Linked DNA regions of Homo sapiens. The protein of the gene in region 1 purifies or fractionates together with the protein of each later gene. This does not show direct contact. Each region holds a gene or a part of one and is shown in the gene's direction. Other genes may lie near its edges.

The links. The genes of interacting proteins can lie anywhere in the genome.
Region 2: the proteins of CEP68 (region 1) and POC5 purify together in Homo sapiens (co-immunoprecipitation; one large-scale study listed by IntAct). This does not show direct contact.

The regions. Positions count from the first base shown.
Region 1 is NC_000002.12:65,055,014-65,059,215, forward strand, and holds the start of CEP68 (centrosomal protein of 68 kDa), read left to right. Parts: upstream 1-1,402; 5' UTR 1,403-1,515; intron 1,516-4,202. UniProt on the Homo sapiens protein: Involved in maintenance of centrosome cohesion, probably as part of a linker structure which prevents centrosome splitting. Required for localization of CDK5RAP2 to the centrosome during interphase. Contributes to CROCC/rootletin filament formation.
Region 2 is NC_000005.10:75,689,938-75,693,437, reverse strand, and holds part of POC5 (centrosomal protein POC5), read left to right. Parts: intron 1-937; coding exon 938-1,042; intron 1,043-2,875; coding exon 2,876-3,055; intron 3,056-3,500. UniProt on the Homo sapiens protein: Essential for the assembly of the distal half of centrioles, required for centriole elongation. Acts as a negative regulator of centriole elongation.

The DNA.
Region 1 (4,202 bases):
CTTCAGGTAGGCAGCAAATGTGTGAAGGCTGGCTGTTACTTAATGGACCAGTGGTGGTGGTGGGATTCAAATTCTTATTAAAAAACAAAAGCAAACAAACAAAGAAAAGCTATGCGATGCCCAAATAAAACCATCTGTGGGCTAGCTGCTGCTGTTGTCCAAAGTTTGTGGCCCCTGGGTTAGACAAAACCTCTGAGCTGTCCTGACAGGTCTGGGAAAACCAAACAAGTCCTTGTCTCCTAAACTACCTGGGACTCAAGAGCTCTGTAGGAAAAAATTTGTACCCTGCACCCAGCTGGGGTTGACATTTACAGACGCCTGTTTTATGAACTGGGGAGATATTCAGTTGAAGCCAGATTGCTGAAAGTGCTGCTGAGAGAAAATCATCAGAAGGGAGGGCCTCTTCCCCACGCCACCCTGGTGGTAGTTCCTCTATGCCTCCGGATTCTGCTAAGCAGTAAAAGCTAAAGGGCAGTGTCATTAAGCTCCTAGGGGATGGGATGCAGTGGCTCACACCTGTAATTCCAGCACTTTGGGAGGCCGAGGCGGGAGGATCGTCTGAGTCCAGGAGTTCAAGCCCAGCCTGGGCAACACAGCAAGACCCCATCTTTGCAAAATAGATAGATAGATAGAGATGTATGAAAGTTACTAGGTCCCATGCTGGCAGGGGAGAGAGTGAGCACCCTGGCCTCCCACAAGCTGCCTCCCACTTCCCTCCGACTCCATCACCGATTTCCCATCAGAGCAGGCTGCTCAGAGTGGCTAAGTAGCTACCAGTTCATTTTCCACACCCTTCCCATTCTCCACGAGCCAGAGCTCCACCTCCCCCCAGAAGCTGTCTTCAACCACCCGGCCTGGGGAGCTCCCCTCAGCACTGGCTCCCCGCCCCGCCTCGCAGCACCTGTTCGGGCCTCGGTCGCGCCGCCGGGTCTTGCAGACGCGAATGTAAACAGAAACACAGTGAAAGGCGTTCGGAGAGCCTCGTGACTGCGGCACGGCGGCGAGCCGGGAACATCAGTGCGTCCAGAGCAAAATGAACGAATGTACGCATGACTCCTGGAGCGACCTTCACGAGGGAAAGCGCGCCCCCCGGCACCCACCCCTAAGCGCCCCAAAATGACCAGCCTTTACACAACCCAGCTCGCAGGCGAAGCTGAGGTCGGAGCTCCAAAAGCGAGGGAGGACAGCCGCTGAAGAAGTCCCGGCTTCCCATAGGCCAGGACGAAGTAGGGGGCGGGCTCATCTTGCAGGAGCGTCCACGTATTGGTGGAGCCGCGGACTTAGAGCTGCGATTCGCTGCGCGAAATTGCCGAAAGCCCTCCCGCGGAGGGAGAAGGGGCGGGAAGAAGGGCGTGGTCAGCGCGGCCGAAGGGCGTGGTTGGCGCTCGGTCCTGCCCTGCGCGTTTTGGGCTGCGGTTGGAGGGCCGCAGTTGCAGTCAGGGTCCGCCAGCTCGGGGCCAGCGCATGGGGCTGCTGAGACCGCTCCGGACGTGCGAAGCGTTCGCGGTGCGGTAGGTAGGCAGTGTCCCGCGTGCGGGTGCTGGTGTCGGGGGTGCCGCGGCGCTGGGGGCGGTGGCCCGGGCTAGATCCGCGCGCGCGCCCGGCCCCCTCCCCCGCGTCTCTTCGGTGCCTGCGGGGCCCTTGCGGTGCGGGCCGTCTGGCCTCGCGTCCCCGCCGGCAAGGGCACAAAGGCTCCCTGGGGGGCGGGGGCGCCTCGTGCCTTCGCCTCCATCTTGCGAGCGGAACGGCGTGTGCTGTGGCGGCCGAGGGGTCGGGGCCGAGGCGGGCGGCTGGGCTTGGGAATGCCCGGGCGCGGCGAGGGAGTGCGCGAGTCCGCGCATCTGGCGGCCGAGCAGCTGCGCCGCTGGTCGGCCTGGGCCCCGGGGGAGGTCACTTTCCCTCAGGCCTCTCCCGGGCGTGGGCTGTTTACCCAGCTCCCCAGTCGGGGCTAATGCAGCTCGGGCCTTTCCCCCTGGAAAGATGGAGACCAGTGATGTCTTCTTATCGCCGCGCCCAGATGCGGAGAGAAAAAATCAAGATGTCTCATTTTTTTTGCCTCGGAGGGCTACCCTTTCTAACTGTCATCACTAGAACAGTTCTCAGCAGCCTGGGGACGAATGTCCAAAACCTGTTCCAGGCCCTTGATGATTAGTAGGTTGGGTTTAGTGTATTGTTTGTAACAAAAATGAGCGGAAGCCTGCCAGGGCAGATTGGACCTCACTGGGAATTCATCAGGACCACGAAGGGAGGTAGCGTTTGTAAATAATCTAACAGTTCTCAGATCTAGGGTATGAAGAGTGTTGTGTTAAAGTGTGTAACAAAGGTTGTTGGGTCAGTTTGCCTTGGGTTTAGTTGAAAGATCTAGAAGTCACCACTTTTTACTTTGTTCCCTCCATTCCCCTTTCCCACCCTCTGTTGAGTCAATTCTGGCCCACTTAGAAAACAACAACAACAAAAAACCCAAGGAATTCAGTTTAACCTCTTTTGCGCAAAGCTTTTTAAAGCACTTCCCCACCCTGCGACTGATAACTCCTCCCTTTTTTGGGCTACCTTCTGCAGCCTCTGTTTTTACTCATCACACTGTATTGTGGTTTCCCCAGCCCCTAGCACAATGCTTGGAACATAAAAGGCACTCAATGATGGAAGGAAGCCAAAAGGAAACAAAATCAGCGTGGTAGTCTAAAGGTGACACAACAGAAACATTTATTTAACTTCTTGAGCGAGTTATTCTTACAGGTTAGGAAGGCAGCTAAGCTCAGGCTCTCTAAGTCAAACAGGCTTTAGCTCTGCCATGTTACTAACTCTGATTAATTTTTTTTTTAATGGTGATGGGGGTCTTGCCATGTTGTCCAGGCTGGTCTTGAACTCCTGGGCTCAAGCAATCCTCCTGCCTCTGCCTCCCAGAGTGCTGGGATTACAGGCGTGTCATTAAGTTATTTAACTTCTCCGTGCCTTGGTTTCCTCATCCTTAAAAATGGGAATAATAGTAGTACCTGTGTGGTGAGTTATTAGGATTAAATAAGATATTGATGTATAGTGCCTAATATAGTTCCTGGCACAAAGAAAATGATCAGTAGCTGTTAGCTGTTAGCAGTCGTTAGGAGAAAAATAAATGGATACTTGAATACACTCACCAATATGAAATATCTGTATAGTACTTGACCCTTCAGGATCTCTCTGTTTTTTGGTCCTTATCCGATCCCTTTTTTTGAGACAGGGTCTCACTCCATCACCCAGGCTGGAGTACAGTGGCATGATCTCAACTCACTGTGGCCTCAACCTCCTGGGGTCGAGTCCCTCTCACCTCAGCCTCCCAAGTAGCTGGGATCACAGGTGCACATCACCAGGCCCAGCTAATTTTCTATTTTGTTGTAGAGATGACGTCTCTCTATATTGCCCAGGCTTGTCTTGAACTCCTGGGCTCAAGCGATTACTGGCATGAGCCACGGTGCCTGACACCTTATCCGATGGCTGATTTTTTTCCTTTTTTTTTTTTTTTTTTTTTTTTTTGAGAGGGAGTTTCACTCTTCTTGGCCAGGCTGGAGTGCAATGGCACAGTCTCAGCTCACTGCAACCTCTTCCTCCCGGGTTCAAGCAATTCTCCTACCTCAGCCTTCCGAGTAGCTAGGATTACAGGCACCCACCACCGTGTTCCGCTAATTTTTGTATTTTTGGTAGAGACAGGGTTTCGCCATGTTGTCCAGCCTGGTCTTGAACTCCTGACCTCAGGTGATCCACCCACTTCAGCCTCCCAAAGTGCTGGGATTACAGGCGTGAGCCACCATGCCCAGCCTGATGTCTGATTTTTAAACATCCCTTTAGCCTTTCCTGATTCTCTTTCCACAGTGAAAGTATTCCGTAGAAGATTATCTGTTTATGTGTCTGGAGTCTCACCACCAACTAAAGATTGATTTGGTGCCAAATAGCAATTTGGCCAAGAGTTACAGTAGTACTTGATACATTCTTAACGGGGTCTGTTATCTGAAATGGTCATGTAAAATCAGAGGAGCTAAATAGATGGGGGCCTCATGTGGCTGACAAAAAATCTTTACCTGGTTGATCCATCCAGAAAGAAGCAGAGCTTATGGAGGTGGACTCTCCTTATAACTTAAATCTGTTCTCATGAAGAAACTGTCTCCTATCTTTAATGTTGTTCACCAACATCATGAAAAGCCCAAGAAATGTTCCTGTTGGCTTTAGAC
Region 2 (3,500 bases), on another chromosome or scaffold:
TAGCTTAGAATGTATGCCCTTTTCCTCTCTGGAAATTATTTAAAGAGCAGTTATAAATATCTCTTGGTAAATGTGCCCAATTTACAAAATCTCTTTCTAATGTGACTATTTTTAGAAATTTATTTCAGTTATTCAGTTCTTTTATAAGAGAGAATATTATCTTAGGATTTTAAAGCCTTCTGAATTTTTTTTTAAGAACAAGAGTAATAATATCACTGAAGAAGTACATCAACATATAACATTAATAACATTAGTTATATATAATGTTATTAATATGTTATATGTATAACATTAATTATATATATTTACTTATATATATAACATTTTATGTATGACATATGTTATATATGTTATTAATAGTTATATGTATAACATGTTATTAATAGGTATATATAACATATATAATATATAGTTATATATATAACTATAACATATTAATAGTTACATATATAACTATTATTTGCTTTTATAGGTTTGTTTAATCCAGAAAATCATTGGACAGTCGTTGAGGAACTTCTATATCCAAGATAGTAGTAGGGACCAGAAAGATATTTAAATATCTAAATATTCTGGCCCCTGCCCTCAAATCTAGTGAATAAAGACATGGTGTATATAGGAGAACTTTCAAATGTATAATTGTTTTACCTGAATTGAATGTCAGTAGCTAATTTGCATATACATAAACTTTTTATTGGTGATTACCATATACACATAATGAAGACTTCCTTCTTCTTTTGTTCCCTTTCATTAGTTGATATCTAGTATATTCATGTGAGAAAGTTTTACCATCTTTTTAAAGATAATAATGAGGTTAACTGAATGAATATAGTAGTGATCCATACCTATCCTCTCTAGCATTTTTTGATATATGAGAAAATCACTTTACCAATTGCTGTTATTTTAATATCACAATAATTGGGTTAATTGCTGTTTACAGGTGATTTCTAGCTTGTCTCATGCCATAGGCAAGCAAAAGGAAAAGATAGAGTTGATGAGAACATTCTTCCACTGGCGAATCGGCCATGTCAGAGCCAGACAGGATGTAAGTGTCAAAGCAGAAGACAGCTGATGGATGTTAGACTTCTGAATTCAGAAGTGCTCAGGATCACTTATTATAGTTGTTTTCTAATAAGTCAAAATGAATTTGTGATTTAATGTTCCTCTTATTTCAAAGGAATTTGATTTTGATGTAGTTTGGAAAAAATACAGTTTAGATCTTATTGACATATAATATATATATATTACAATAGATACATCATTTCCTGCTTCATAGTAGGTTAATAAGGATTGTTCCTAAATTGTAAAGGCCCTGGTAATAGAACCCCCTCAGATGTGGTTATTGGAGAAAGAAGTTATGTTTAACATATCAAATGCTTCCTATATTGTTTCTACTTTTAAAATGCCTGAATACAACTTATTCATAAAGAGGCTTTACTATATTTATACATTAAATCACAGTATAAATGTTTGTTATGTAGACTTGCCTTAGAGTGAGAGTCAGAGAAAGCCATACCTGTACAGCTTTTTAAAAGTTATCCTTAGCTTGTAGTATATCATTTAAACTTGAACATCTTTTATTTTAAGTAAGAGCTGAGTTGGTATATCAGTAAATAGTGAACTGAAAGAGAATACTAAATTGTTGTATCAAAAGTGGAAAAGTATGAGTATATCCCACAACAAGACATAGTTTAGAGACACATGAATATAGGAGATGAATATATATATATATGCTTTCCATGTATATTCATGTGAGCTATGGAATAATCTCTGTGTATTTAGTTTCCAAGAGATTAGTATTTAAGGAAAAAGCTAGTACAGGTTGAGTATCCCTTATCCAAAATGTTTGGCACCAGGAGAATTTTGGATTTTAGATTATGTTTCATATCACACCTTATGCACAAAATTCATTTATGTTTCATATTTCACCTTATACATATAGCCTAAGGTAATTGTATACAATATTTTTAATAATTTTATGCATGAAACAAAGTTTGTGTTAAGTACTTCTGTGTGGAATTTTTCACTTGTGGTGTCATGCTGACACTCAAAAAGTTTCAGATTTTTGGATTAGAGATGCTCAACCTACTTTATCCTGGAATAAGATTTCTCCTTTAAGAATACTTTCTGGATTTTTCATTTTTTTAATTAATCCCAGTAGATTAAATCCACATTAAGTAAGCTGGTTAAAATGAATATTTATACTCTACTTTGAAACTTGTCAAGTGAAATAATGAGAATACATATTTATTTTTAAATGTTAGCCAGAATAGTTGAGGCTACTGTCACTTTTGGATAGTTTTTCAAACTGAAGAAATTGAGAATTGGAACTACTTCTTCAAAAGAATTTAAATTCATTGATAAAAGAAAAATAGCATAAGTTTTTATTTGGATTGGCACCATATATGATGGCAGGGTTTATAAATTAAATCTTGCTTGTGGTGGCCATCAAACTGAAGAGAAAGCAGTGTCATCTGAAGCCACAGCCACCACCATTTCCTGCCTTCTAGCCACTCTGTTATTCTCCTGGTCCTGCTAAATTCATAACTAAGATGGCAAGTGGTGATTTGCTCATTTTCTTTCATTTGGTTGTATTCTTTTTCTCTAACTTGATTAGTTGCATAAAGCAATGATGTAATGGATAAGAGCTCAGTCTCTGGAGTCAGGCAAGTCTGGCTTTACTCATCTACTTATGTGAACTACGTAGCTTGCTTAACCTCTCTAAGCCTGTTCTCCTATATGCAAGATGAGAATAATATGATTACATAGAATTAAATAATGTGTATATGTACACTTACCACCATGTTATGTTTATTATTACTACCAATATATTTATCAATCAACTGTGTTTTTGAAGTTATATTTTACTTTTATTTAGGTTTATGAAGGTAAACTAGCTGACCAGTACTACCAGAGAACTTTACTGAAGAAAGTCTGGAAAGTCTGGCGTTCCGTAGTGCAAAAGCAGTGGAAAGATGTGGTAGAAAGAGCTTGTCAAGCAAGAGCTGAAGAAGTTTGTATCCAGATTTCCAATGATTATGAAGCCAAAGTTGCTATGGTAAGCATCTTTTTCTGGTTTTCACTTTCTTCTAATACAATAAAAAGATAGATAGACTCACTATTAATTAATAGACTTCTTCTTTTGGTCTTTAATCAAGAATGCAGACAAAAAAATGAAAACGTTTATTCTTGTGTTAATTTAATGTTTATTGTATATTCTTACATGGTTGATATAAGGAGTTGTATAGAAATTGAAATTATTAGTTGGGCGCGGTGCCTCACTCCTGTAGACCCAGCACTTTGGGAGGCCGAGGCGGGCAGATCACCTGAGTCAGGAGTTTGAGACCAGCCTGGTCAACATGGTGAAACCCCGTCTCTACTAAAAAAATTAGCTGGGTATGGTGGCACATGCCTATAATACCCGCTACTCGGGAGGCTGAGGCAGGATAATCTTTTGAACCTGGGAGGCAGAAGTTGCAGTGAGCTATATCACACTGTTGCAC